Linked DNA regions of Homo sapiens: region 2 is linked to region 1. Evidence: fine-mapped expression QTL. A gene starts in region 1. The other region holds a variant in brackets. All regions are shown on one strand. Distances are from middle to middle. Region 1 holds the start of JCAD (junctional cadherin 5 associated). Region 2 overlaps JCAD (junctional cadherin 5 associated).

Region 1 (15,729 bases):
CAGTTATCCCTAGTTGTCTGGGACCTAGCCCTGGGTTGATTCAGGGCTGGGAAAATATTGGCTTGCTGTGAAAGAGTCAGATAAGGAGGTGGTTGAGAGAGCAGGCTCTGGATCACAGGGGAGGTGTGAGTAACCTTGGCTGTTAGTTTGGCCCTGTGATTAATGAAGGCCAAATAAACAAACTAAGTCCAAACTAAGAAAACACAGTTAGGGCAGGGATGAACAGTGTCTTCTACCAGGTATTCGGAATCCAGTAGCTGAACCAAGTATCATGTAAGCAAATCCAAGATATGCCCTGATAAATGCAGTACTGCACCAGCAGCTTCCATGTGTGATGGGAGTTTGAGGGAGGCAGGTGACTAATGAAATGGAAAGTTTTCTTTCACAGGAGATTTACATCCTCTTTTTTTTTTTTTTTTTTTTTTTTTGAGACAGAGTTTTGCTCTTTCACCCAGGCTGGAGTGAAGTGGCACAATCTTGGCTCACTGCAACCTCCACTTCCTGGGTTCAAGAGATTCTCCTGCCTCAGCCTCCCAAGTAGCTGGGATTATAGGTACCTGCCACCATGCCCGGCTAATTTTTTTGTATTTTTAGTAGACATGGGGTTTTGCCATGTTGGCCAGGCTGGTCTCGAACTCCTGACCTCAGGTGATCCACCTGCCTCGGCCCCCCGAAGTGCTACGATCACAGGCCTGAGCCACCGCACCCGGCCGTACATCCTTTTACACTTAACTAGAAGACCACTGTCATGCACTGCATAATACTTCAGCCAACCATGGACCACATCTATGATGGTGGTCTCATAAGATTATAATACTGTATTTTTACTGTACTTTTTCTATGTTTAGGTACACAAATAACACTGTGTTACAATTGCCTGCAGGATTGAGTAGAGTCACTTGCTGCATGGTTTGCGGCCTAGGAGTAATAGGCTATAGCACGTAGCCTAGGTATGCAGTAGGCTACACCACCTTGGTTTGTGTACATGCACTCTAGGATGTTTGCACAACAATGAAATCACCTAACAACACAATTCTCAGAACGTATTCTCATCATTAAGTGATGCATGACTGTACTTCAAAACCATACAACCCCGCTAGTAAGTGCTACCCTTTTGTACATCGAAGGACATAAGTCAAGGCCTAGCCCAGTGCCTGGCACATAAGAAACATTAAAACAAAGATAGTTCTTGGCCAGTTGCAGTGGCTTACGCCTGTAATCCCAGCACTTTGGGAGGCCAAAGTGGGCAGATAACCTGAGGTCAGGAGTTCGAGACCAGCCTGGCCAAAATGGTGAAGCCCTGTCTCTACTAAAAATACAAAAAATTAGCTGGGCATGGTGGCACATGCCTGTAGTCCCAGCTACTAGGGAGGCTGAGGCAGGAGGATCGCTTGATCCTGGGAGGCGGAGGTTGCAGTGAGCCGAGATCGTGCCACTGCACTCTGCACTCCAGCCTGGGCAACAGAGCAAGTCCCTGTCTCAAAAAAAAAACAGAAAAAAGGTAGTTCTCATCTCTCCCTTCCACCTTGTATTGCTAGGCATCACTGACTTAATAAAAGCCTGATACACCATTCTCTCCCCAAATGGAGGCATTCTTTTTACAATTAATGTAGTTCACAGTTATTTGCATAGTTCTTTTTTTTTTTTTTGAGACAGGGTCTTGCTGTGTTGCCCAGGTTGGAGTGCAGTAGCATGATCATGGCTCACTGTAGCTTTGAACTCTTAGGCTTAAGCAATCCTCCCACCTCAGCCTCCTGAGTAACTGGAACCATAGGCATGTACTACTATACCTGGCCATTTATTTTTATTTTTTAGTTTTTTGGAAACAGGGTCTCACTCTGTTGCCCAGGCTGGAGTGCAGTGATGCCATCTTGGCTCACTGCAACCTGTGCCCCCTGGGTTCAAGTGATTCTTGTACCTCAACCTCCTGAGTAGCTGGGACTACAAGCACATATTTTTTAGTAGAGAAGGGATTTCACCATGTTGGCCAGGCTGGTCTTGAACTCCTGACCTCAAGTGATCTGCCTGCCTCAGTCACTTGAGGCAGGTGTGAGCCACGGAGCCCAGCCTATTTCCCATTTTAAAAACAAAAAGTCATATGGGGTTAAAAAATGCTTGAGTTAATTTTGATTTATTCTTGATTAGCTGGTATGGAATGGTGGGAGAGGCAGCCCAAGGGGTGCCCACGTCTGGACCACTCTGGTGCTGGCCACACCCCTGTCTGCTTGAAGCCACATTGGCATCCCCCCGGTACCAGCGGGATCCCTGACAGCCACTGCCATTCCCTGGAGGGCACCACCGCTCAAGAGGCCTCCTTATGAATTTGGCAAAGAATTTTATAAACTGCAGGCAGGGGGAAGCTTGGAATGTCTTTCTACCACTAGTAAACAGCAGCTCTTTGCTACGGTGAGTGTAACAGAGTTGTTTTCCATTAATATGTGGCTTTACGTGAGAACAAGCTGACACGAGGAGAGCAAACAATTAGAAATGATTTTTCTCATGCAGTAACTATGCAGATTCAATCTCCTCACAGTGGAGGTATAGGATTGAAAAATTGTTTGTCACTCTCTTCTTGGTCCCCAGCATTGTAGGTTTTGTTTCAGTTAGCGTCAAATCTTCTAAGCCAACAGTAAACATCTAATGCACTTGATTAGTGAAGGATGTTGCTATGTGACTCTCCATCATCATACAATGACGTTCACGGCTACTGTCTTTGCACTGTATACTACGTGTCAATCAATCCATTCCTCTCTTGACACAGATCATTTCTATTTATTGTGCTCCATCCCTGCTTCTCACACTTTACTGTATGTGAGAATCATCTGGGCATTTCCTTAAAGTACACATTCCAGGATCTCAAAGGTAGAACTTAGAAATTCTGATTGCATCGGTTTGATGAGGCCCAGGAATTTGGCCTTTAGTCAACTCTCCCTCCCCCAGTTGATCCTGGTGTAGGTGGTCCATGGAGCAGACTTTGAGAAACAGATTTCTAGTTCTTGGTTAAAAATAATTATGCAGGGCTGGGCATGGTGGCTCATGCCTCTAATCCCACCACTTTGGGAGGCCAAGGTGGGAACTTTGCTTGAGCCCAGGAGTTCAAGACCAGACTGGGCAACACAGGGAGAGCCCGTCTCCGCAGAAGATACAAAAATTAGCTGGGCATGGTTGTGTGTGTCTATAGTCCAGTTACTTAGGAGGCTGAGGGAGGAAGATGGCTTGAGCCCAGGAGGTCAAGGCTGCAGTGAGCTGTGATCACACCACTGCCCTCCAGCCTCAATGACAGAGTGAGAGTTCATGTCAAAAAAAAAAAATTATGCGATATAGTCTGTGAATTAATATAAAGCATAGCAATAACTAAAAACAAGTGTTATTAGCACTTGTTGACATAAAATCCTTTCTAGATTTTTTTCAATTTGGCAGCTTTTTATTTATTTATTTAATACATATTAGATGTAGATATTTTCAGGATCCATGTAATAATTTGATAAATTCATATAATCAAACCAGGGTAATAGGGACATCCATCACCTTAAATATTTATCTTTTCTTTATGCTAGGGACATTCAAAGTATTCTCTTCCAGCTATTTTGAAATGAACAATTGGTTAATGTTAACTATAGACACCGTACTGATATATCAAATGCCGGGTCTTATTTCTTCTAAGTGTATATTGTATGTATTAATCAGCTTCTTTTTATCCAAACCCACCCTTCCTGGCCTCTGGTACCCACCAATATACTCTCTATCCTCACAAGATCCTTGCCAGTTTCTGTGTAACCACTATTGCCTGACTTTCTAAAACAAGCCAACAAGAGAGACCTCAAGGTTTTATCGAGAATGTGGGGTTTTGGCCGGGCACGGTGGCTCACGCCTGTAATCCCAGCACCTTGGGAGGCCAAGGCGGGTGGATCACGAGGTCAGGAGTTCGAGACCAGCCTGACCAACATGGTGAAACCCCGTCTTTACTAAAAATACAAAAATTAACCAGGCGTGGTGGCACGTGCCTGTAATCCCAGCTACTCAGGAGGCTGAGGCAGGAGAACTGCTTGAACCTGGGAGGTGGAGGTTGCAGTGAGCTGAAATTACACCACTGCACTCTAGCCTGGGTGATAGAGCGAGACTCCATCTCAAAAGAAAAAAAAAAAAGAGAGAACGTGGGGTTTTTTTGGTCAATGGGTACAAAGTTTCATTTAGGAGGAATAAGTTCTGGTGTTCTATCTCACAGAAGGGTAACTGCAGCTAACAAGTGTATTGTATATTTCAAAATTGCTAGAAGAGAGGATTTTGAATGTTCTCAACCCAAAGAAATGGTAAATGTATAAGGTGATGGCGTATTAGTCCTTCCATTGCTTATAACAGAATACCCGCAGGTGGGTCATTTATAGAGAAAAGAAATTTACTTTTTACAGTTATAGAAATTTATTTCTTGTAGCTGAGAAGTCCAAGGTCAAGCGGCTGCATCAGGTAAGAGCTTTCTTGCAGGTGGGGACTCTGCAGAGTCAACCTAAGGTGGTATAGGGCATCACATGGTGAGGGGCTGAGCATGCTCACATGCTAGCTCATGTCTCTCTTCTTCTTATAAAGCCACCAGTTCCCCGCCATGATAACCCATTAATCCATTAACCCATTAATCTATTAATCCATGAATAGATTAATCCATTCATGAGGGCAGAACCTTCAGGATCCAATGATCTCTTAAAGATCCCATCTCTTGGGCTGGGCGCAATGGTTTTCACCTGTAATCCCACCACTTTGGGAGGCTAAGGCAGGCAGATCGCAAGGTCAGGAGTTCGAGACCAGCCTGGCCAACATGGTGAAAACCCAACTCTACTAAAAATGCAAAAATTTTCTGGGTGCGATGGCACTTGCCTATAATCCCAGCTATTCAGGAAGCTGAGGCAGGAGAATTGCATGAACCCTGACGCGGAGGTTGCAGTAAGCCGAGATCACGACACTGCACTCCAGGCTGGGCAACAGAGCAAGACTCCATCTTGAAAAAAAAAAAGATCCCATCTCTCAACACTGCCACATTGGGGATTAAGTTTCAACATGAGTTTTGGAGGAAACAAATATTCAAACTATAGCAGATGGATATGCTAAACACCCTGATTTAACTATTACAGAATGTATACAAGCATCAAAACATCACACTGTACCCCATAAATATGTACAATTATTATGTGTCAGTGAAGACAACAAATTTTTTTTTTAAAAGAGCGTTAATCTTTTAAAAAATGAGAACTGGTAGTGTCTTTACAGACTAAGAAAAACAAAATCAATATCTAAATCAGCTAAAGGAAACCTTATAGTCTACAGAGAAGGGCCCTAAAGCAGGGAGGGAGGAGGGTTGCTCTAGGTCCTTGAACAGGCAGTAAGTTAGAGAAACAAGATCTTGGCTTTTATTTTTTTTCTTTCTTTAAGCAGGCGGTTAAACATTATTTTTCTGGTTACTGCACATCTGCCCAATGACTCAATAATCCAAGTTCCTTCCTGAGTCTGTGAAATCCCTTCTCCAGGACTCAAGAAAGGCGGGGACATTGGGCATCCAGGGCTGGATCCTGGCACATGCTCCCAGGGCTGTGCCAGACTTCTAACAGCTTCATGTTAAATGCTGTTTTCAATCATAGTTTATATTTTACATCACATAAGCGAGTTTTTTTTTTTTTCCTGTGTTTAAATCTCCCAAGATCAAGTAAGTGGAAGCAAGAGACCCAAATTGCAGGAAAATGGGAGTGGGTAGGGATAAGGGAATTAGGAGGTTAGGCTTGTTTCTCTCACGTCTTGCCCACCATCCCTTGTCCATGTACTGGTGACCGGTGTGGAAACTGGCCCAGTGGATTTTCCTCATTACCTTTTATCTTTATTATCTTCCTACATTTATGATTAATCACCTGCTCATACTCATGCATCTTTTCAACCTTACTCTCTGATATGGTTTGGCTCTGTGTCCCACCCAAATCTCACCTTGGGTTGTAATAGTCCTTACGTGTTGTGGGAGGGACCCAGTGGGAGGTAATTGAATCATGGACGCGGGTTTTTCCCATGCCGTTCTTGTGATAGTGAATAAGTCTCATGAGATCTGGTGGTTTGATAAAGAGTAGTTCTCCTGCACATGCCCTCTTGCCTGCTGCCACGTAAGGCGCGCCTTTGCTTCTCCTTTGCCTTCCACCGTGATTGTGATGCCTCCCCAGCCATGTGCAGCTGTGAGTCCATTAAACCTCTTTCCTTAATAAATTACCCAGTCTTGGGTATGTCTTTATTAGCAGCATGGGAATAGAATAATACACCCTCTTTCCTCTTTGTTAATTCTATTCCCAGATCTTTAGAAAAGCTTTCCACCTTTCTGCTTGCCCCTCTCCCCACATCCACAGCCTCACCACCATCTTCTCTCTCCATCTTTTCATTCTGCTTCTTTGTTTGAAATGGCCTTAGTCATGCCAGGAAAACATTAGAGCAGGGCTAGGGATACATCAGTACTGAGGAAAGACGGAAGCCAAACATTTTGAAATGAGGATGTTAGGATAAAGAGCCAGGGTCAAGAAACTACAAGCATCTTGAAATTGTGAAGTCATCTTCTCTAGAATCTCCAGTATTTCAATCCCATTACATTCCCCTAATTGAATCTGCCTTTGCCAGCCTTTCTGCTAAAATACAATTTCTTATTAAACTTGATTTGGTTTGGTTTAGCTTAGCTCCTAGCATTGAATCAGTGTTGTTTTCTGATTTACTGCAACCCTACTCTGTTGTTTTGCAACTCTACAGCCCTTAGGTACATTATAAAACTTCCATGGGGTTGACCTAGAAACCCAACAATATGACATTGTTCTGTGGGGAAACACATCCTAATCTCAATTCACTGACTGATAAATGTTCTAGCAGGAATACTTGGCTCCCTAGGTGTCTGCACCATGCTGGGCACATAGAGGTGCTCCACCCCAGGACAAAGTTATTTCATTGAGTTGGCAAATTGAGGAGAAACAGGAATTCTATAAGTCATTGAAGAAATCCATCATCGAATGATGCTTTTTTGACAAGAAGTAATATCACTGCTGTTAATAACTGTGACTCCCCAGAAAAAAAAAAAAAAGTCTGCATTTCCTTTTCTATCTTTTAAATTTTGTCGAATCCTATTTTCCCAGCCTTTGTGTCTCTCCCTAGCCACAATCCACTTGTCCTTCAAAGTCTTCCCTGGTGGTTCCAAGTCAAACAGCAGTAGCTGTACAAGTGTTAATGGTAGTAGCTACTATTTTCTTTTCTTTCTTTTTTTTTTTTTTCTTGAGACAGAGTCTCACTCTATTGCCCAGGCTGGAGTGCAGTGGCATGATCCTGGCTCACTGCAACCTCCACCTCCCGGGTTCATGTGATTCTCCTGCCTCAGCATCCCGAGTACCTGGGATTACAGGCACCTGCCACCACGCCCGGCTAATTCTGTATTTTTAGTAGAGATGGGGTTTCACCATCTTACCCAGGCTGGTCTCGAACTCCAGACCTCCGGTGATCCGCCTGCCTTGTCCTCCCAAAGTGCTGGGATTACAGGCATGAGTCACCATGCCCGGCCACCATTTTCTTGACTATTACATGTACCTGAACTAAGTGATAAGAAGGCATCATCTCATTGAATTCTCATGACTCTCCTATGAGATGCAAACCATCATTACCCCCACTTTGTTAGAGAGGAAAGTGAGGCTAACAGAAGTAAAGTACCACATCTAGAAAGTGGCAGAGAAGCCAAGCCCGGGACCTGAGCTACCTGGTTCTCGAGCCCCTAATCATGCTGCCTGCTCCTATCGCCACCATCTGGTTTCCTCCCACGCACTCCTGATAATGCACAATACAACATTCAATTACATTGTTCGTTCTTTTCCAGCAATAGTGTGTTTAGCTTTTATGCTGTGTTAGATTATACGTTGCTACTAACCATGAGGAACATATGATTCAAGAGAACAAAGAAACGACCTTGCTCTGGTGGTTCAGAGCGAGGGTCTTGGGCTAGATTCTGCAGCTTGCCATCTGTGCCCGTCCCTGAGCCCACTCCTCATCTGTAAAGTGGTGCCCATATCATCAAACTGTGATGAGGATTAAAAGAAATAATACATAGGAAGGGCTCAGATGTGGTAATAGAGCAAAAAAAGTTAGTTATTGGTGTTTCGACAGCAAATACAGTCCTAAAATCATGATGTGGCTAAGTAGTTTTCTGAAAACTAATTTGGCAAGGTCACCAGTCTGCTGTGCCATCCATGTTTTGTCTGGGTGGACTTAACTAACATTCCCTGTCTCTCCCCAATGCATCAGCAATATTTCACATTTTTTGTCTTCTGTCTGCCTTCCAAAATTATGAAAACGTTCGCCCTGAGCAGACCCAGGCAGCAGTCTAATCTTTCTGCCCCTTCCCGCTGTAAGAGAAATATGGAGTGGGTTTGGGGTTACCCAAATGACCCCAAATGTTCATTCTGGTCTGAACTCTCCCACTGACCTCCTCCTATCTCTCCTCCTACCCCTGCCCTGTAGGCAAATCCTGCTCCTGTCATCAGTTTCCTCCTCTGCCACAGGAGAGTATGGGCCAGCTGATCTGAAGGTGGCTTCCAGACTCCTTCAGACTTTTTTTTGAAAGAAGTAAATCCCAAGCTGTTGTCACCATCACTGTTTTCTGCTCTTCATAATATCGATGTGTTATGTGGGTGCGTTTGTGTGTGTGTGTGTGTGTGTGTATAGCCATACTGTGTTCCCATGTATGTATGTATATGTGTCAGTGTGTTTGGCTGCATCTGTGCGTGACTGTATATGGGTGTGTTTGTGTGCACCTGCGTGTGACTGTATTTGAGTGTGTGTGCACTTGTCTGTGACTGTGTGTGCACCTGTGTGTCCTGTATATGTGTTTGTGTGCGCCTGTTTCCTGTGAGTGTGTTTGTGTGCATCTGTGTGTGGGTGTATATGAGTGTGTTTGCATACATCTTTGTGTGTTTGTGTGATATGAATATGTTTGCTTTCTGTGTATCTGTGAGAGTGTGTGTGTCTTTGGACATTTCCACAGGGTTGACGTGGCCCAAACCCAAGTGACAAGAAAAGAGGGAATGGTGGTCAGCTCACTTGTGCCTTCTGCGCGACCCACGCAGGCGGACCCCAAAAGCCTAGGAAGCTCGTGGCCTGGATACCGCCCTCAGCGCAGAGGAGGCAGCCCCGGGCGGTGGGCGGGGCGGGCCCGGGCGGTGGGCGGGGCGGACGGCGGTTCTCCGGGCATGCTCGGCCTCGGCGGCTGCAGGCGGGGCGGGTCGCGCTGGTCCCCGGCCGGCCGGAGCGGCGGCGGTGGCGGCGCGAGGCGGCATGAGGGAGCCGCTCGGTAAGTCCCGGCGTCTAACCCTCCTGGCTCCCACCGTCCATTAGGGCCGCTCCCACGGCGCTTCGCGGGCCTCACCCGCAGCCTCCCGCACTCCCCCCAACTTCTCCAGCTGGGACGTCGCTCCGGTTCCAGCCACCCTGGCGGTGGGGGATGTCTGCACCCCCAGTCGCAGCCCCGCCTGGGCCCCCCGCGCGGTGCCTAGCCCGGCAGCCTCGGGGTGGAGGGCGCCTGCCAGCCCGGGAGGGGCGTCCCCTCCCCTCAGGTGCCCCGCTCGGAGCGCGGGGGTCCCGGGGCGGGCACCGCGGGCCGCGGCTGGCGTTAGCGCTCGCGTCGCCCCTCGGCGCGCGGAGGGCCTGGGGGGCCGGGGTCACTCACTCCCCTCTCGAAGTCGCCCTCCCCAGCCTGTGTCCACCAACCCCTCCCGCGCCCTCGCGCCCAGATCTCGCGGACCTCACCCCAGAGCTGACAGCCGCCGCGCTGGGTCCCCGAGGTCCCAGTTCCCACGCTGCCCCGGCCGTCTGGACTGCCCGGGACGGTGGGGGGCTCCCGCCGCGGCCCCGCTCCCGCTCCGGTCTCTGCGCGGTCTGCGCTGGGGATTAGGGCGCTAATCGCAGCTGCCTCCCAGCGAGTGCCCGGGGCCGCCCGGCTCCTGGCTGCGCGTGGGATGGGAGAAGGGCAGGAGCCCCGCCTAGGAGTGCTGTAAATCCCGTTAATTATCTCATTTATGGGATCTGGAACCCGCCCTCCTAGGGTCTCTGCGCTCAGATCTCCGCGGGCACCCTCTACTTCCCCCGTCTCCAGTCGGGGTCCGTTCACCCCCAAAATGCCAGGGTTTGCCTCGATGCCCTGGCCACAGTGGGGCCCAGCACTAGCTGCTAAAAAGCGCCCCTCTCGCTTCCGTCAAGAAGCAGAGCGCCTGGGATTCTTCTGGGCATTTGTAAAGAAGCTGTGATTTCACTACTGAAGAAGAAAATAAAAACGAGAACTTTAGGCCAGCGCTACCTGGGCATGCCCTGGTGTTTGGTCATCCACGCGCTTAAGGAGTAGAGAGGCCTTGGGGGAATTAGCTTGGGCACATCACCTCCCCACACCTACACCCACTCTCCCACCCCCGCACGCACTCCACCCGCCTCCCGTGTCCTCATTCCCTCCCCAAATCTAGTAGCTTGGTCTTAGTCTTGGGGAGAGGGGTGGGGCGGTGCAGACCACACAACTCCCAGGGTTTCCTGTCCTGACAGTTTAATGTGATGTTTCTCCCACAACTTGTTTTCCTTCTCCGGTCTTTTGTCTTTTCAGATTTACAAGGAATAGATAACCCAGAGATTGAGGGCTAGGGTTGCAAAATACAGGGATTTGGGGGAAGGGGCCTGATGGGTAGGATTCGGGCAGCCAGAAATGCTCTGGCAAAAAAAGGCAGTCTGCATGGTGTGAACTGAGGGTCATGGGCTGTACAGGTAAAACTTTGGGAATGTCAGTTCATTTTAGAATTTTAAGACCACCCGGCAAAGCAAGAATGCATACAGGCTTTTTTGGAAATCATATGCAGATTCTATTTCATTGGACTTGTGTTGGTTTTCGTGTGACATTGGGAGTTTGTTAAAGTGGTTTGGTTTTCCATAACGTCTGTGGATTGGGACTTAATTATTTACCTTGACATTAGGTGTCTAATTCTTAGTCACCAGCTTAACAAGCTTCCTGAAGTCTCTAAGTGTCACTGTGGGCATGCAGCATGTAAGAAACTGTTACTCCGCCTGGAGTGGGCGAGCAAATATTTGTTGAACAGAGGCCTTTAATCTGCTGGGCCTTCCTCCTGTAAAACTTCACCCTTTGCTGCAGAGACTGGAAGGTCAGGCCCTTGGCAGGCCCAGGAGAATTAGGGGATTTGGGTGGGTGGAGAAAGCCTGTTTCGGGGAAAAAAGAAGTTTGGCCTGAGTGTCCACATGCTCTGGATGACTTGACAAAGTCATCAGGGTTATCAAATAGCTCATCGAGTGGTCACAGATTCCAGAAGCCTGTGGTCTATTGTTCGGCAGCTATAAAATGTAGCAGGGTTGGAGGTACACAAGGAAAATAAATAAGGACCAATTTTTTCACTTAAAAAAAGTAAATATGAAAAGATTCTTGTAGTCTAATTTTTAACATGCAATTTAAAAATAAATCCTAGAAATGTTATCAGTACAGAAAGCCCAGAAGTCTGTGGCTCCCCCAAGTTCTCACTGGCCAGTTTGGGAGGACAGTAAACACCAGTCATCCTTAGGAGTCCTTAGTTTTTCTTTTAATGAGCTTGGCGAAACTCCATGCTAATTAATCTGGAGAGCGTTTAGAACACAGAGCGTTGGAGTGAAACAATTGTTCTATTGTGTTTTTTATTTTGATAAGCAAAGACTATCTCTCTGAAGTCCTCTGGGCCTATTGCTGAACCCATTACTGCAGTTTACTTGGGTTTTTAACAGATGTTGTTTTTCCTCCTTTGGATGAGAAGGGTTATCTCTCTCATTAAAACCTTGCTCTTGTGCTTTGTTTCAAGGGCCTGCTGATGGAAGGAATGTTGAGGTCCACTGACTTGCAAACGCCAGCAGCCCAGGGAGGGGAGGTGTTGGGCTTTGATATATGCTTTAAACACTAAATGGTGTTTAGAAAAATACAGGAACCCCTCCCCCAGATACTAAAACCTCAATTATCTTGATTTGAATTGAAGATGTCTTGTTAAAAATTTGGATTATCTATAACCAAATATCTTTCCCAACAACTTTCTATAGATATGCTTGGGAATAGCCTGGTTAAATCAATAGGCTGGCAGATTTGTTATCAGATCGTGAAGTATCCTTATAGTTTTGGGCTTATTGGTTGTCTTTATAGTTTACCTGTAAAGATTGTTTTTTCTGTATGTAAATGAAAGAATTTAGATACTATTAGGAAGAAGCACCAAGATACATTCCAAAGAAGGAAAGAAAAAAAAAAAAGCAAGCAACTTGTCTGTGTAGGAAGAATAGTTAGAGAAACAGAAACCAGATTGTTGCTACTGGTTATCTCTTGGCACAGTGGGGTTACTAGGAACTTTTCCTTTTTACTTAAGCACTGAGTTTTGCAGTGTTTACTTTTGAAATCACTTTACATGACTTTTGTACTTAGGAAATAAATAGAAATGTAAAGATCATATGAAATAATTTAAGTCAAACACTTTGATAAAGACTTGGCTTTTTTTTATTCTGAAGATATTTAAAAACAAAACCAAAAGAAGGGTAAGTTTAATGGAATATTTAAGGTATCTTTACATGTGGAGCTTGACATACATGATGATAAGGGAATAAAACTCTAACCTATGATGATGTTTTACAGCTATTTTTGCAAATAGCCAAAAATTCCAAAAGATTTAAAAATCTTATCCAGTTTGAGTCCTTTCTTAATGACTTCTAATCTTTCAGAAATGTTAATGAGGTACTTAAGGTCTCATAAAAATATTGCTAGCCAAAGCAATAATTGTGTGACACAGAATTTAGAGGTGAAAGAGAAGACAGGAGAAAGAGTGTGTGTAAGTGCATGTGTGTGTGTTCACATTAGTTGTGGAAAGAAAAAAAAGAGGAGTCAGAAGGGATAATACTTAGGAAAAAAATTCAGTGCATAATGTTGGGGACTTTTTTCTTTTTCTTTCTCTTTTTTTGAACAAATGCCTTAATACCAATCCACCCCAGCAAGATTAATGTTCCAAGGTCCTTTTGATCTTAGACACAAGTTTTCCAACTCATTTGTTTTTTGTCACCTTAAAGAAACCTAAGGATGTCCTCCTAAAATGATTACTTCACAGATTAAGTATGATTTTTTACATCTTGTGAGATTTTAACAACTTGACTGCCTTGGCAGAGTTGGTCATCACACGTGTGGTATGGTAACAGCAGTCTGTGAGAACTTGGTGTCCCAGGACTTCAACTGGGACTGTTGCGTTATTTAATAATTAAGACTGGAAAGGGAAATAGCAATTCTATTGTTCATAGTAAAATACACAATTCTACCCTTAGGAAAAAATCTGTGGAAAGCATTAAAAACCTACGTGTCAGTTAGCAACATACTCCATTCTGGTTTGTTTTATGTCTTGGTGATTTACCTCTTGTTTAAAGAAAGTACTTTGTTATATATTAATCATAGCATTAGACCTAAATGTTGTCAGTTGAAGAGATATTTACACTGAACTGCCAACAATTTGAGGGACCAATTACATCTTAAGCATGGAATGTCAGTGAATACAACTGAAAAGTTTTAGGTCTTTTAGAGGAGTAACAATGTCTAATTAAGACCTTTTTAGAATGCTGGTTGTAACCTTGTATTAGATTTCTTCAGCAGCACATGTGATTTTGGCTTCCTGAAAACAGGTTAAGAGTCTCTCTGGCAGATAAGGCACATGTACCATATACTAGAGCCTTATGTGATTTACTACTCATTTATTCTTTTCTTCAATGTTTCTTTTATTGTCATTGAGGCTTCCAAATACCTAACCTATTTTTAAAGATGCATTTTCGGCCGGGCGCGGTGGCTCACGCCTGTAATCCCAGCACTTTGGGAGGCCGAGGCGGGCGGATCACGAGGTCAGGAGATCGAGACCATCCTGGCTAACACGGTGAAACCCTGTCTCTACTAAAAATACAAAAAATTAGCCGGGCGAGGTGGCGGGCGCCTGTAGTCCCAGCTACTCCGGAGGCTGAGGCAGGAGAATGGCGTGAACCCCAGGGGGCGGAGCCTGCAGTGAGCCGAGATTGCGCCACTGCACTCCAGCCTGGGCGACAGCGAGACTCCGTCTCAAAAAAAAAAAAAGATGCATTTTCCTCATCTAACCTAAGCAGCATTTCATTTATGAAAGTTTTTTTCTGATGATGAAATAGTTATATATAACTTAATTAAGTTATGTAATATGTTAATATATTAAGTTATGAATAATGATGATTGGTGATGAAACAATATTGTTATATTAAATTATATAATAAGAATGTGGATATTATATATGTTGTTATATATACTTAAGTTAATATTAAGTATATAAAGTTAAGTATAGTAAGTATATGAAATTGCCAATATTTGACTATTTTTGACCTGCAAAATGACAATTTCATATGATTGGACCTAATACATTTCATGACAGAATATCATAAGATTCAGTAAAGTATAAATAAGGAAATTTTTCAAAAACTCAGAGTCCATCACCTCTGCTGACATTTTGGTATGTTTCCTTTCAGTGTTTTTTCCCCTTTCAAGTACATATGTATATAAACAAATTTGGTATGACATTGAATCTAGGGTTCTGTATCCTGTCTTTATTATTTAGCGTGGTATCACGAGCATTTCCCTGTGCTGTTGTATACCTGAAAACATAATTTTATGTATGTGTATACATATTATAGTCCACTATATGGATGCACCAGAATTTTTTTTTGAGATGGAGCCTCATTGTCGCTCAGGGTGAGGTGCAATGGCACGATCTCGGCTCACTGCAACCTTTGCCTCCCAAGTTCAAGCCATTCTCCCACCTCAGCCTCCTGAGTAGCTGGGACTACAGGCGCATGCCACTACACCTAATTTTTCTTGGATTTTTAGTAGAAACGGGGTTTAACTGCGTTGGTCAGACTGGTCTTGAACTCCTGACCTCGGGTGGTCTGCCCACCTCAGCCTCGCAAAGTGCTGGGATTACAAGTGTGAGCCACTGCACCTGGCCCAGAATTTTTTTTTTTTTTACTAAATTAGACATTTAGTCTAATTTTGTTATTATCATAATTAAAACTGGGATAACTATCCTTATACAAAACAGTGTGTATCTCTGATTATTTCATTAGGACAGATCCTAAGAAGTGAGATTATTCCATAGGGTTTCAGATGTTTAAAGATTTTGTTACATATTAATAATTCTTTTCTTTTCTTTTCTTTTCTTTTTTTTTTGAGACAGAGTATCCGCTCTGTCACCCAGGCTGGAGTGTAGTGGCACAATCTCCGCTCACTGCAGTTTCCACCTCAGGTTCAAAGGATCCTCCCACCTCAGCCTACTAGGTAGCTAGGACTACAGGTGAGCGCCACCACGCCTGGCTAATTTTTGTATTTTTAGTAAAGGTGGGGTTTCACCATATTGGCCAGGCTGGTCTCTAACTCCTGACCTCAAGTGATATGCCTGCCTCAGCCTCCCAAAATGCTGGGATCAAAGGTGTGAGCCAGTGAACCTGGCTAATCACTTTTAAGAAGGGAAATACTCATTTTCATTTACATATAGCCTGCACCCCCCACCCCCCACCATTTATACACACACAAACAGGAGAACCCTTATAGCTCCTCATGCCCTTACCAACAACAAGCATTGCTTTTTAAAAGCTTTAATCATCTCATAAGTGAATAATGGCATTTTGGTTTAATTTGCA
Region 2 (15,729 bases), 49 kb after region 1:
CTTTTTTTCCCAGCTTTATTGAAGCATGATTGACAAAAATTGCATATATTTAAGGTATAGAACATGGTGTTTTGATTCATCTATAGATTGTGAAATGAGTACCCCAGTCAAGGCAGTTAACATAGTCATCTTCTCTCATAGTTACCAGTTTTTTTGAGTGTGTGCTGAGAACATTTGAGATGTACTCTATCAGCAAATTCCAAGTGTACATGATGGCATTAGTAACTAAAGTCACCATCCTATGCACTCAGTCTCCAGTACTTACTCATCTTATAGCTTAGGGTTTGTACCCTTTGGCCAGTATTTCCCCTTTTCCTTCACCCCAGCCCCTGGCAACCACCCTTCTACTCTCTGTTACTGTGATTTCAACTTTTTTTTTTTTTTTAAATGATTCCACATATAGGTGAGATCATGCAGTATTTGTGTTTCTGTGTCTGGCTTTTTTGACTACCATAATGTCCTGAAGTTTAATCCATGTTGTTGTAAAATGGCAGGATTTGCTTATCTTTTAGGGCCGAATAATATCCCATTGTGTGTGTATATACAATTTCTTTTTTTCTTTTTTTTTTTTTTTTTTTTGAGACAGAGTTTCGCTCTTGTTGCCCAGGCTGGAGTGCAATGGCGCCATCTCGGCTCACAGCAACCTCCGCCTCCTGGATTCAAGCGATTCTCTTGCCTCAGCCTCCCGAGTAGCTGGGATTACAGGCACGTACCACCATGCCTGGTTAATTTTTTGTGTTTTTAGTATAGATGGGGTTTTTGCATGTTGGTCAGGCTGGTCTTGAACTCCCAACCTCAGGTGATCCACCTGCCTCGGCCTCCCAAAGTGCTGGGATTACAGCCGTGAGCCACTGTGCCCGGCTATATAATTTCTTTATCCATACATCCAGTCATGAAAACCTTGATGATTAGGTAGTTTCCTATCTTGGCCATTGTAAATAATGCTGCAGTGAACTTGGCTATTGTAAATAATGCTGCAGTGCAGATATCTCTTCCATACTGATGTCCTTTCCTTTGGATACATACCCAGTCATGGGATTGCTGGATCATATGGTAGTTCTATTTTTAATTTTTTTGAGGAACTTCCATAATGTTTCCATAATGGCTGTACTCCTTCCAGATTGCTTAGACATTTTCTCTTTAAAAAATAAGAAGCCTTTGAGCTGCTATGGCAGGAAAATCTTACCACAGGAGGCGCACGTGTGAGCCTTAGGTTTGTCTGGATTCCAGACAGACATCTGTGAATTGGAGGTTGTGGGACTTGGCAGCACCCAGCAGCAGCAGTAGTGGCAGTTTAGGATGATTGCTCTTTTGTATGGTGTCCCGTTTTAGAAATCCAGGTCATCTGGGCACAGATTGGGATTTTTCCATTGACGGCAGTAGAATGGATCAGTGCGTGAGGGGCCAGACTCGTACATACCTGTGTTAGAAGGCTCTAGAAGCCTTGCGCTGACAGGTGAGCATCCAGCCCTGGGGCTGCCTAGTGGTCAGTGGTGATGAGAGACAGAAAGCCTCTCTCTGCCAGCCAAGCAGTCAGGATTTGAGGATCCTCACGCCTTCAAGGGACAGCGTTTGATCACAAAGATGCGTATTCTAAAGCAAGCTTTCTTTTGAGCTGTAATTTACCAAAAAAAAAAAAAGAAGAAGAAGAAGAAGAAGAAGAAAGAAAGATAAGACATCTACCTTAATATCAGCCAAACACATCACTGCCAGTTTGGAAACATTGCGTTTAAAGTGAAGTATATTCCACGGTGAACAGGAAGGAGCCGCCGAAGTATTCAGCAGTTCATATTTTCCCATCTGTGTTTGGGTAATGACTATGCACAATTCTTTGAAAACAGCCTTTTTGACAAATAGTTTTTTACTCCTTAGTGAAAACATGATTGTTAAAATGTCTAAAAATTAACCTTTATACACTTGTAGATTTTGTTCCCTAGACAAATTCGTGGTCTAAGGATTAAACAGAAAATAGAGCAGTTGAATATAACACTAATTTTCTTTTCTTTTCTTATTTTACAGATTCCTATGACCCTAGCAGAGTGGAGAGGGTGTGATGAAATGCCGGTGGAGCTTGCATTCCGTTGCGAATTGAGTATTCTCAAGTAGCTGGTAGATTTAGTCTATCAGCCCCACTTCCCCATGTAGAAGCTGGAAGCTGCTGAGTTTTTAGCATCCTGATAACATTCTTTACCACTGCCACTAGGAAACTTGCCATCCTCTCAGAATTGCTTTGTGGCGATAAAGCAATCGTCCGTTGAAACCATCTGTTTTTATAGCATGAAGATTTAATGCCTATAATTAGGAAGGAGTTTTCACAGAAACCCTCCCTCATGACAGATTTGACTAAGCTGGTAAATAGTTTGGTGTTGCTCTCATTCTGGGTGAAGATTTCAATGTGGAAGATCTAGCAAATGCTTTGGAAAGGCCTGTGAATGGTGTGCTCCCCTCTGTGTCTCCATGGCCTGCAGTCCATGCTCTTGTGAAGGAGTTTGGGACACTGGCTGTTGCCCGGTGTTTCAGCACTTTCAGTTTAGGGGAAATGTGAATCAATAGGTATGATCCATTTCTAATCAATTTGGCCTTCTGCTGCTGGAAGTAACTTTACTTATAAGTAACTTGCCATCAGAGAATAAAAGCAATATCTTTTAAGTTCCTGAAAAATTAAAACTTGTACTGTAATATACTAAGAGTATTATTTATCTGGCAGTGAAATATTTTGATCATTTGCAAACACGCCATTGTCTGCTTTGCACTCAGTATTATCTATTTTTATTTTCTGTATGGGTATTTAGAAATTCTTTATATGAAAAATAATTGCTGGTTTAAAATAGACCATTTTAACAAAGTGACTATATTTCTTTTTACGAAAATGCTATTTTTCTATGATGTAAACAATTGTTAGGCGGCAGATTTTTAAGGAAGTATTATTTTATTTAAGAGTCTGTATCCCTTTGTGTGAGAGGAACCCAAAGAGGGTTCACTTTTGCTTTAAAGCTCTGTCCCTTACCCACTGACAACTCTGCTACTTTTATTTTATCTTAGAAAATGTCAATATAGACATATCACAGGGTTAATAAAAGAAACTTTTCACAAAGATTTTTGTACAAGTGTAGCTATCAGGTTATATTTGAAAATAACCCTCTGAAAACCAGCCAACATTGTCATGACAATTTTTGCTGCCGTATCAACTAGAATTACCAAAAAACATAGTTTTATCTTTGTATGTGTGTGGGGATCTACCCTGAGACCATGCTTTTCTTCCCACCCTGCCACCCCACCCCTTTAAAGAAATACGTATTTTTATCTAGAATGATCTTGAATTAGTCTCTGCATATTTTTAGAAAGTGCTTGGGGACATTATATATATGCCATTACAAAAGCATTATGAGGCCTATGTATTCTACTGTGTTTAATACTGCATTAACCTGCACAAAGTTTATGCATTTTTTCATGCATTTTTTTCCTTCTTTCTAAGTAAGGTATTCCTGACAACTAACATTCCCTAAATCATTTCCCCTCCCTCCCTCCCTCCCTCCCTTCCTTTCTTCCTTCCTTCTGTCCTCCCTCCCTTGCTACCTCTTGCCCTCCTTCCTTCACCCTGTCCTCCTTTTCCCTTTTATTTTTTCCCCTTCTCTTTCATTTTATTTTCTTTTAGAGAAACCACCTTATCTATTTTTAGACATTTCGAATTCCTAAAATGTGAACCGTTGGGTGATCTGTCCTTTGGCCCTAAAACGGCTGGCCGGGCTGTCCCGGCCTGTTCTCATCTGTACCGTATGATTTTATTTCATAATAACTTTATGTATTTGGACTGTAACAAACAAAACAGAACCTAAGTCGCCCCGAAAAATCTTTCCAAGCCTTTTCAAAACACTTATCTGCAGTCCAGAATTCAGCTCTTATGAAAAGTGAGAGTGCACTCCAGTTTTCACAGCAGCAATAAGTGCGGGAAACAAAAAGATCCTCTTCCCAGGAAAAGTTGAGTGGGGAAGAGTTCAGACACTGTTGTAGCTGGTGAATCATTGAAGTCACCTGGTAGTACCAAATAAGGGCTGAGGCGCCTGGAGGTCTTTGTGGGGTCTTCCCTCTTTAAATGCAAACGTAAGAAGGTATATGTGTATATACATTTATATACGTGCACATGTATACTCGTACATGTATGCACACATACCCATACATGTATATGAACTCCGTTCTGATTTCCTCTGAAATTTTGTTGATACCATCTAAATACCTCTTTGAATCAAAATAACTTAATTTTAGCTCATTCCTCAAGAGAAAGAGAAGGATCCCCAAGGAAGAAAAACTGTTGTACCTTCTGTGATTCTCAAACCAAAATGTGATGCGCTTCTGTTTTGTTATCTTAAATTGTTGTATCATATCTTTCTGAAACCATTCTGAATTAAGTTGAAATTTTCAACATTTATACTTTAACTGTTCTAAATTTAAGCCTACATGTAAATCTTTTTTGGGGGGAAGGTAACTTGAAAAGTTTAACTTGAAAATTTGACCTTTAAACTTTCATATTCTAAGGTAAATAATAGCCTATAACCAACAACAGCTTTCCCAGAGGTCTTGAATTTAACACTAATTGTTTAGTTATTGTTTCTATTTCTCATACATACATAACTTCGTTTTTTGTGGCTGGAAGAAAAAGTTTCTATATTTTGTATTTGTCTTTGTTCTTCTCATGCACACAATTTACTGTTGGTGTTTAATAATTTGGAGCTCATAAAATTAAAAGTTGTAATTTTGACCATTTGGGCTAAAAATTATATGAGGGATTACATATGCAATGGATTAGTATTTCTTGATTTGCAAAAGAAGGGAAAATGATGGTAATTTAGCTCAAATTGCCTTTCTTTGAAGAAAATTTCTGAATGACTGAAAACCAAATATCTATATTATCACTTTCAACCTCATGTTTCTGCAAAGTACAGAAAAACTCCTCACTGACAGTGCACCCAGCCCCTGACTGGGTTTTCAGGATTATGTCCATGTGCATAACTGCTTGGATTTCTTCTTTTAAAGTCCCTAAAACATGAATCTGTTCTTTGAGATCCTGGTTTCCTTAGCAGAGTTGTAGGTTGCGGGTTTCATTCACGTGGAAATTCTAAGTAGAACTTTTGCTGCCCCATTTTACTGTTGGTGAAGGGCCGTTGTTAATGGAAGTTTACGTTTTAAAACTCAGATGACTCAGAAACCAGACTGTGATCATTTTTTGCAGCAGCAAAATGACTTATTCTGACAGCATCTCGGTTTGGGGCTTCTGAAGAAAAAGGATGAAGCTGATCTGTTGAAACAACTACTTTCCCAACTCGGAGGCAAAAGGGGCTGATAGAAGATAACATTCACCTACCATTTCATCTTGTGACCCCCAGAGATCACGTTTGCGTGTTCTGGCTGAGTTTTTTATTATTGTTTGTTTTAAATGATTAAATAATACACAATTAAATGTCAGGATAGCATCTCTTGCAAAGTGACCAGTGCAGCAGAATTGTCTTTCTATCCATATTTGAGCTTAGAGAAACATTTCCCATGTCCTAAGTTCTTAGAAGCAATTACTTTAGCGTTGGGGAGCATTGTTCTACCAGACCCATTTATGCAGGGGAGATGAAGCTTAAAAGACGGGATGTGGGGTGGGAGTGTGTTTCTTAAGCCGAAGCTGTTGCAGGCTGGGGGATTTTTGCATTTTCTTTTTGTTTTGTTTTTGACTGCAGATTCTGTACATCTGTCTGTGGGAGGAGAGTTGCTACTCAGGACAGGATTTAAGAGACACATTCCAGTGACCTTTAAGAATCTGCATGGCGGGAGGTCCTTCTCCAGGAGTGTGGGTTGGTCCACTCTGGGACCCACCACACTAAGAAGGGGGAGATGATAAAATAACATTAAAGGAAGAATGGCCTCCAGCCTGCAGGTTTTGTTGGAAAGAAATAAAAAGGGAGTCATTAAGACCATAAATTCAGATTGAGGCCTCTTGAAAAGGTTGATGTGGGCTAGCAACCTGCCTGTCGAAACAGTCCTTGGTTCATCAGCAGTGTGGGAAGGCAGCCAAGGCTCCTGCAGATTCCTGGCATCGACCTTGGAAAGCCTCTGCGATACTTGTGTGTACGAATACAGCAGAGGACAGGGAGGTCCTTGTTCTGTGGTCTCTGTTTAGTGACTGAAACTTAAACCCAAAGGCAAGCCCAGATTGTCTGGCCGTTCATCCCCATGCTTTGATAGGGGTTAGGAGGAACCCTTTCCGTATGAAAGACAGGCCCTACTAGGGCTTACAACCAAGCCAAAGGACCATCTCTTCTTTCTTCCACCTCCCTTCACCCCTGCCCCGCAGCAGAGCCGAGATGTGAGACATTCATTGTCACGGAGCAAGGAGACAAAGGCAAGTTCAAGTTGAGAAGCATATGGCAGCAAACAGAAATGAAAACCATATGTCCCAGCAAGGGGAAAAGCAGTCATTTCCAGATTATAAAAATCAATGAAGTACTCTCCACCTAGGTCAGCTGAAATTCGAGCCCTCACAGTCAGGCCTGTCAGAGAAGTTAAGCAGAAACATCTCGGGGGGACTTCTAAAATTTAGTGAAGACAAGGCCTTGCAACTCCAAAGAAACTTTTTTTCCCCCCCTTGAAACAGGGTCTTGCTCTGTTGCCCAGCCTGGAGTGCAGTGGTGCAGTCACGGCTCACTGCAGCCTCAAGCTCCTGGGCTCAAGCACTATCCCCACCTCAACCTCCTTAGTAGCTGGGACTACAGGTGCACACCACCATGCCCAGCTAACCACAGAAACTTTCATCTCTTCATTTTTTCTTTGGGCACCATTAATACCTAAGACAGGTAGAAAGGGTCCCAGAAAGACACCATTGGTAATGGCCGATTGCCGGCTGCAGTCATCGCCCCCAGATCAGGCTGGTACAGGATGCCTTAAGGTGATGAGAGGTGAGGGTGCATGAAGAATAATGAGCACAGGGAAGAGAGAAGCAGGACAAAGTAGCAGATAAAATGCCGGCAAAGCACAGATGAATGTCTTCAAGAAGCTCTTGTATTTCTCTGCACAGTGTAAATATCCTTGCTATTTCAGGATGGCGGCTGGCCTGCTCAGTAACATACATGTTCCAAATAAAGATTTTGCATGAAAGTACCTATGTCCGTTGTCTTTTACTGTGGGTGCAAGAGCTGCCCTAGAGGCTGGTTCCTGAAGGGCGGGCAGCAGGCTGCACGGGGAGCAGCTCAGATGGTGTGGGTAATGCAGGGACAGGTAGCCCACAGGGTTCCAGCACCTTTGGTCTCCACTGGGATTTCCCGGGAGTTAAAGCTCCTGTTTACATCTCCCCCAAGGCTTACTGACATTGTGGAAAGAGGCCTAGAGTTAATTTGGGAACTGGGTGTGAATATTGACTCTATCAATAACCATGTGACTTTGTACACATCACATCCCTGGCTTCTGTGTCCTCCCCAGCCTCTCCTACCAAAGGAACATAAGAATCCAATATATAGAGAACCTCCAGCACATTGTGGGTGTTGACTGCATGGAGAATGAAGCTAGAGCAGTGCCTTCTGGGGAAAATACTTGCCTGGAAGTGTTGTAGGTTTTACCATCCAGGCCTCTGTCTTGTAGGGCTATTCTGGAAGCAGAGGGAGACTCAGTGCAACATCATACTCTCCAATCGTTTCTATTGTCAGACCAATAAACCTCTAAGCTGTTGTTTCTGAGTTTTTAAAAACACGGTCCTTCTTTCCAGTGTAGGCTTCCTCTCTCTCCTGTAAGCTTTTGTAAGCTGTTTTCCTCATTTCTTCCTTGGCTCCACATGTGCAGAGCCCCAAAGCTTGAGTATCCCGGGGCCCTCTAAGTAGTATGAAATTTCAGATCACACTAAGATGTGTGTTTTAAAGTAAGGACTATCCCCTAGTTGGTTGATAAGTTAATCCACATATTAAAATATAACTGAAAAAAATCCCTTGACCACATTAATGCTAGAAGATGAAACACACAACCCAGGAATTGGGGGACTCATCCTGGGCCTGGCTCTGCCATTAACTAGCTGTGACATTGACCCCCTTTCCCTGGAACACTTCATCCTGTAAGTGGAGAGGGAGATTGAGCTCAGTTAGCTGGTTTCTTCCAACTCTAAGCTTATATAACTATTTTCTGGCAAACCTGAACGTCCATAGGGTCTTTTGTCCTGCCAGAAGGGTTCAAGAGTAAAACAATTGGAAAACTACGTCTGTACGTGACTGCGGACTGGGTCATGGCCAGGGTGGGAGTCCTGCCATTATTTCTCTCACCAGGGTGGTCCACTTCCCCCATTCCAGTAACTTATCGTGCATCTCCCCATCACCGTCGCTATGGCCCAGCCAAGGGACTGACAATATTGAATTCTCCTGACATATTTTTCTTACGTTAGGGCAGGGCACTAGGATGTTTATAAACTGGGCAGTCAGCCCAAGG[C/T]ATTAATCTGCAGTCACCCACATAGACTGCTTTTCTCACTATTTGGCTGCTGGGGTCCTTTTAAATACACTTAGTTTTGGAGATATTTGTGTCTCACCAGCTAAATCGCCTTTCTGCTTCTACCCCACACAGCAGTGTTTCCCCAAGTGGTCAGCTTGCAATTGACTGGCTGGAAAAGCTGCCAGTCCTACAGTCCTACGTTGCTCAGGGTTTTGGGGACCAAAACTCCATGGGAAACTGAGTGCTAGCCCATATGCCTCTGGTTTGGTTTCTGCTGGAAAGCCCAGCTTTTCTTGGAGTTAGATGAGATTTATTCTGGAGACCCTGGTCAATGTTTCTTCCCTTGACTTCCCCACTCTGTCCTGTACATTAACCGTGATTGTTTGTTGTAATTTTTTTTAATTTTAGAGATGGGGTTTCGCCATGTTTCCCAGGCTGGTCTCAAACTCCTGGGCTCAGGGGATCTGCCTGCCTCAGCCTCCCAAAGTGCCGAAATTACAGATATGAGCCACCGCACCGGCCAACCATGGGTTTTTCTACCTAATCTAACTCCACTGGTATATATATATATATTTTGAGATGAACCTTCACTTTGTTGCCCAGGCTGGAGTGCCATGGCACAATCTCAGCTCACTGCAACCTCCACCTCCCAGGTTTAAGCGATTCTCCTGCCTCAGTCTCCCAAGTAGCTGGGATTACAGGCATGCGCCACCACACCCAGCTAATTTTGTAGTTTTAGTAGAAACAGGGTTTCTCCATGTTGGTCAGGTTGGTCTCGAACTCCTGATCTCAAGTGATCCATCTGCCTTGACCTCCCAAAGTGCTGGGATTAGAGGCATGACCACCGCGCCCAGCCCCACCGGCATATTTCTGAGTTTATGATAGCAGGCTCAGCTTGTGTGGAAATAAACCCAAATCTGCATTTACGGGTTGAGCACCCCAAACCAATATGCTCCAGAGTCCAAAACTTTTTTTTTTTTTTTTGGTGGGGGGGACAGAGTCTAACTCTGTCACCCAGGCTGGAGTGCAGGGGCGTGATCTTGGCTCACTGCAAGCTCCCCCTCCTGGGTTCACACCATTCTCCTGCCTCAGCCTCCCAAGTATCTGGGACTACAGGCGCCCACCACCTCGCCCGGCTAATTTTTTGTATATTTAGTAGAGATGGGGTTTCATCATGTTAGCCAGGATGGTCTCAATCTCCTGACCTCATGATCTGCCTGCCTCGGCCTCCCAAAGTGCTGGGATTGCAGGCGTGAGCCACCTTGCCCGGCCAATCCAAAACTTTTTGAATGCCATGATGCCACAAGTGGAAAATTTCACACCTGACCACATGTGATGAGTGCACAAAATTATTTAAGATGTTATATAAAATTCCCTTTAGGCTACGTACCTAAGGTGTGTATTAAACATAGATGAATTTCATGTTTTGGCCGGTCGCAGTGGCTCATGCCTGTAATCCCAACACTTTGGGAGGCCAAGGTGGGCGGATCACTTGAGATCAGGAGTTCAAGACCAGCCTGGCAAACATGGTGAAACCCCCACCTCTACTAAAAATACAACAATTAGCTGGGTGTGGTGGTGCACACCTGTAATTCCAGCTACTCAGGAGCCTGAGGCAGGAGAATTGCTTGAACATGGGAGGCGGAGGTTGCAGTGAGCCGAGATTAGGCCACTGCACTCCAGTCTGCATGACGGAGTGAGACTCCATCTCAAAAAAAAAAAAAATTTTTTTTTGTTCAGACTTGTGTTCCAAAATATCTCATTATGTGTATGCAGATATCCCAAAGTCCAAAAAACTCCAAAATCCAAAACTCTTCTGGTCCCAAACATTTTGGATAAGGGATACTCAACGTATACCTAGAATTTTTTAAGTATTTAAAATAAAATGCACAACATGAAGAAGAGGGGAAGACAAGGAAACTAACATTGTTGGTTCCTTACTGTGGGCATCGCATATTATATGCATTAATTAATTTAATGCACACCATTTTGTGGGAGACAAAACAGGTACAGAGAGACTGAATTATTGCCTGCAGCACACAGCTAGCAGCCAAGCAGGGATTCAGACCTATTCACGTTAACCCCAACATCCATGCTGCTCCTTTTAGCTTGTTATATCCTAGGAGGATGACAGAATGATCCTCTATTTAGTCATGAAATTCAAAGGTAACACTCTTACAATGCTAAATGCATTTGTTAGGATTGGGTTAAGCTGCCTATGCCAGAAAATTGAAAATAGCAGTGGTTTAGGTGAAGTGGAAACTTATCTCTCTCACACTTCAAAGGAGCCCAGAGACAGGCAGTCCAGGGCTAGCACGGAAGCTCCTTGGCAATCAGGGATCTGGATTCCTTGTATCTTTCTTTTCCAGCATCCTTGCAATGGCTTCCATCCTGAAGGCAAGTAACCTCATGGTCCAAGATGGCTGCTATAGTACTGGCTATCTTGGACACTTTCTAGGCAGCTGACAAGAGGAAGAATTATCCTCCCAGATGAGTTAGCTTCCTTTAAAGAGACTTCCAGGAAGTCCTACACTCTTCTGCATATACAGTCAGCCCTCTACATTCACAGGTTCTGCATCCACAAATTCAACCAACTGCAGATCAAAAATATCAAGAAAAAGAAACAAAATAACAATACAACAACTTAAGAATACAACTATCACAGTATAATAACTACACAGTATTTACATCGTATTAACTATCATAAGTAATCTAGAGATGACTTAAAGTTTACAGAAGGACATATAAATATTATATGCAAATACTACATCATTTTATACAAGAGACTTAAGCATCCATGGATTTTGGTGTCCTTCAGGGACCTGATACCAATTGCCTGCATACCCCAGGAGGACTGTATTCCATCTGCAAGAATTCAGTCACATAGTCAAGCTGCAAGGGAGTCTTGGAAATGTAGTCCACTTAACTGGGCGCCGCTGTGGTTCTAAATAAGATCAAAGTTCTGTTGCTAAAAAAGAGTTACAGTAGTTATTGATTGGCAACTGGCAAGCCCTGACACAATTAACCCACCAATGAGCTGAGCATTAGCCCCAGGGCAGATGGAAGCTCACTAGACGGCAATACCAAGCAGCTTGTGTGTGTCCCGTGTCTCTGTGACTAACTGATGTGACCAGAACCTCAAAGGCAGCACGGATGATTTTGTCTCACCAAAAAATGAAACATGCTGCCCCAAAGAAAAGGGGGGTTCACATCTTTAATCCCCCCACTTTGGGAGACTCAGGAAGGAGGATCACTTGAGGCCAAGAGTTTGAGGCTGCAGTGAGCCAATATCGTGCCACTGCACTCCAGCCTGGGCAACGGGGAGACTTTGTCTCAAAAAAAAAAAAAAGGTTGGGGGCGGGTTAGTAGTGCCTTCAGTTTAACAAGGGAGCAGCCACAAGGCCAAGAGGGTTATCTGTAAGCAGTTGTCTGTGTAATTTAGTTCCAGGGTCTGTCAAGTGCAAACTCTCACATTCCTGGGAGATGCCCCTTCCATAGAGGAAATGACTTTGCCTGGACAGTGGCCCTTGCTGTTCATAATAGGGATACATGAGAAGAGGTGAATGGCAAACACAGGGGTCTAGATGCCAAGTTTCTGGGTTCTAGGAACAGCAGACCTCATCCATCATTGTGTGCTCTGCAGAGGAGGCTCTTCCCATTTTCTGCAGAGGCAGAGGCTGTACATGAGGGTCCTAACATCTTTAGAAGAAAACCATCAGGGCAGCTGGGGCAGGGGCAGCTGGTGGGTGAGACTGGGGTCGGGGAAGAGGAAGGGTTAGGACTAGATGACACAGAGAGGGATGGAACCACACAGACCCCTGCATCCTACTAGGAAGTCCCCAGGAAGGGCCTTTGTCACTGCCTTCCTGCCCGAGATGGAGCCCACAGCCTTGGAAATTCCAGAACAGGCCTCTCTGTTCAGATATCAAGTTTCACTCCTGAATGCTCTGCCTTTCTGTTTCATTCTTTCAGTTGGTCTCAGTTGCAGAGGAAGCATTCTGAACTCAGTTTCCTGGTTATTGAGATTTTTATTTATAGAGATACCTCTATAAATCCAGAAGACGCACCCCAGGAACAGATTTCAATTTTTTTTTTTTAAACGAGACTCTGTGACTAAAGGCAAAAATGAAACAGGTGCCAGAAGAAAGTGATGAAAGATATCAGGGGCAAAATTGTGTCCAAGGAGAAAGTTCATGCAGTACAAATTAACATGGCAGCAAATATTCTGAAGGATGTAGACTATCCCCTCGGTGGGTCTTCTCGATGAGGAAGGAGAGCCTGGGGGACTGTGGGGGAAGACAACTGCTGTATTTCATCACGCAGAAGGCACGCCATTTTATTTGCTTCATTCCAAAAAAGGAAGACAAGGCTATTGATGAAATTACTACTTGCCATTGATTATAAGTGCATTCCAATTTCAGAGAAGTTAAAATGTGAGAGAAAAAAAAAGTGCCCGTGCAGTTGATGAAATATGGTAACTAACCTTCATTCATTTGCTTTTTGTGGTTCGGCAAATATGCCTGTCCCCCATGCCTCCCGTGGAGTCCCTTGCTGAGCTGGTTCTGGAAGACCCTGTAAGACTTGCACTGCAAGAGCTCCCCGGCCATTACACACAAGCAATGGAGACTCTAGGGCTTTGGCTATCAAACTTCAACTTGTATCCCAGTGCCTGGAACGCGTTAAAAGAGAAAAAGATGCTGATTTAGTGCATCCGGCATGGGGGCCAGAACACTTCATTTTTAACTAGTACATACGTGATTTTAATGCTAGTGGTCCCATAGCCACTTGAGGTGTCTTCAGACACAGTACAATGGACCATCCACCAGCTCTCCTCTGGGTCCTTTATCTTGGCGCCGGTGTGTGTGCCAGTCATTTGTGCTGGTTGGCCTTCGCCTTCTCTTCTGTCAATTTCCATTCATCTGCCATGTCTGTTTGAGCCTCACGTTCCGCAGCAGCTCCCCTGACCTGGCCAGGTGAGGTTAGGCGGTTCTGGTTTAGGCTTCCCCTTCATACCACTGTAAAGACTGTAATGGAGAGTGCTGAAAGTATCAAATGTCACTGTCCCCTCCTCCTAGGCAACAGTGTCTGGAGGGTTTGGACTGTGTCTGTCTCGCAAATCCACAGGGGCTAACAAAATTCCTGGCACATATCAATAACATGACTTATCAATAAATATTTGTTTTGAAGCAAATTTGTGTCTAGGTATTAGACAAAACAGGGAGGCAGGGTACACCAGGTCCGCTATTTTATTTTGGTAGAGCAGGAGGTCCACACCATAGTACAACAAAAGTTTAGAACAAACAAACCTGGATATGTTTTCACCAAAATGTTAACAATAATGACTTCTGGAATTGGGGTTATGGGTATGTAGGTATGAATGGATTGCTTATCTGTATTTACTATAAAAAAACAAGTATTGCATGAAAAAAATTGGACACGTGGGATCACAGCAAGTTAAAAAGCCTCTGCACAACAAAGGAAACCATCAACAAAGTGGAGGCAACCCACAGAATGGGAGAAAATATTTGCAAACTAACCATCTGACAAGGGATTAATAACCAGATTATATAAGGAGCTCAAACAACTCTATAGGAAAGAATCTAATAAGCTGATTTCAAAATGGGCAAAAGATCTGATCAGACATTTCTCAAAAGAAGGCATACAAATGTCAAACAAGTATATGAAAAGGTGCTCAATGTCACTGACCATTAGAGAAATGCAAATCAAAACTACAGTGAGATATCATCTCATCTCAGTTAAAATAGCTTTTATCCAAAAGACAGGCAGTAACAAATGCTGGCAAGGATGTGGAGAAAGAGAATCCTCATACACTGTTGGTGGGAATGTAAATTAGTACAACCATTATAGAGAACAGTTACGGGGTTTCTCAAAAAACTAAAAATAGAGCTACCATTTGATCCAGCAATCCCACTGCTGGATATATACCCAAAAGAAAGGAAATCAGTGTATCAAAGAGATATCTGCATTCCCATGTTTATTGCAGCACTATTCACACTAGCCAAGATTTGGAAACAATCTAAGTATTCATCAGCAGACAAATGGATAAAGAAAACATGGTACATATACACAATGGAATACTATTCAGCCATAAAAAATAAAGAGATCTTTTCATTTGCAATAACATGGATGGAACTGGAGGTCATTATGTTAAGTGAAATAAGCCAGGCACAGAAAGAGAAACTTGGCATGTTTTCACGTATTTCTGGGAGCTAAAAATAAAAATTGAACTCATGGAGACAGAGAGTAGAAGGATGGTTAACAGGCTGGGGAGGATAGAAGGGAGGGGGGGAGTGAGGATGGTTAATGGGTACAAAAAATAGGCAGCATGAATAAGAGCTAGTATTTGATGGCACAACCAGGTGACTATAGTCAACAATAATTTAATTGTGCAATTAAAAATAACTAAAAAAGTATAATTGGATTGTTTATAACACAAAGGATAAATGTGGGCCAGGCGAGGTGGCTCATATCTGTAATCTAAGCACTTTGGGAGGCCACAGTGGGTGGTTCACTTGAGGTCAGGAGTTCGAGACCAGCCTGGCCAACACCGTGAATCCCCTCTCTACTAAAAATACAACAACAACAAAATAGCCAGGCATGGTGGCTCATGCCTGTAGTCCCAGCTACTTGGGAGGCTGATGCACGAGAATCTCTTGAACCTGGGAGGTGGAGATTGCAGTGAGATCACACCACTGCATTCCAGCCTGGGCAACAGAGCAAGATTCCACCTCAAAAAAAAAAAAAAAAAAAAGATAAATGCTGAGGTGATGGATACTTCCTTTATCCTGATGTGATTATTACACATTATATGCCTGTATCAAAATGTCTCATATACTCCATAAGTATATATAACTACTATGTACTCAAAAAATTAAAAAGTTAAAAAATTTTTACAGTAAAAAAATAAATAAATAAGGTTGAACTTTATAATCACCTAGCATATTGCAAAAATTATGGTGTGCCAATTCTGAATCTAGATCATAAAATACACTATGGCTTCCAACCTGTGCTCTTAGGGAAGCCAACTGCCATGTTGTAAAGGCGCTCCAGCACTCCCGTGGGGAGACCCACATCGTGAGGAATTAAGGCCTCCAGCCAACAGCCAACAGCCAACACCAGTTTGCCAGCCCTGTGAATGATCCCCCATGGACATGGATCTTCAAGCCCAAGTGGAGCCTCCACAGCCACTGACATTTTGAATGCAACCTCCTGAGAGACCTCCAAACCCTCAAGTTCAGCTACTCCTCTGTGCTGGCCCATGGA

The links.
Region 2: its variant is fine-mapped to the expression of JCAD in lung (TOPMed, PIP above 0.99).

What each region holds. Positions count from the first base shown.
Region 1 is chr10:30,053,090-30,068,818 of GRCh38, reverse strand. It overlaps JCAD (junctional cadherin 5 associated), which reads left to right and starts at 9,233. Exons shown (of 4, transcript NM_020848.4): 1 at 9,233-9,337. LOC101929256 (a long non-coding RNA gene) reads right to left here and starts at 9,981. Exons shown (of 4, transcript XR_001747405.2): 1 at 9,793-9,981. RefSeq lists silencers at 5,385-5,679, 9,121-9,290 and an enhancer at 11,575-12,112.
Region 2 is chr10:30,004,208-30,019,936 of GRCh38, reverse strand. JCAD (junctional cadherin 5 associated) reads left to right here. Exons shown (of 4, transcript NM_020848.4): 4 at 2,020-7,134. The coding sequence ends at 2,054. Among named protein-coding and RNA genes, the nearest start is that of JCAD, 48 kb to the left of the region's middle. The variant C/T (reference allele first, on the strand shown) is at 8,446.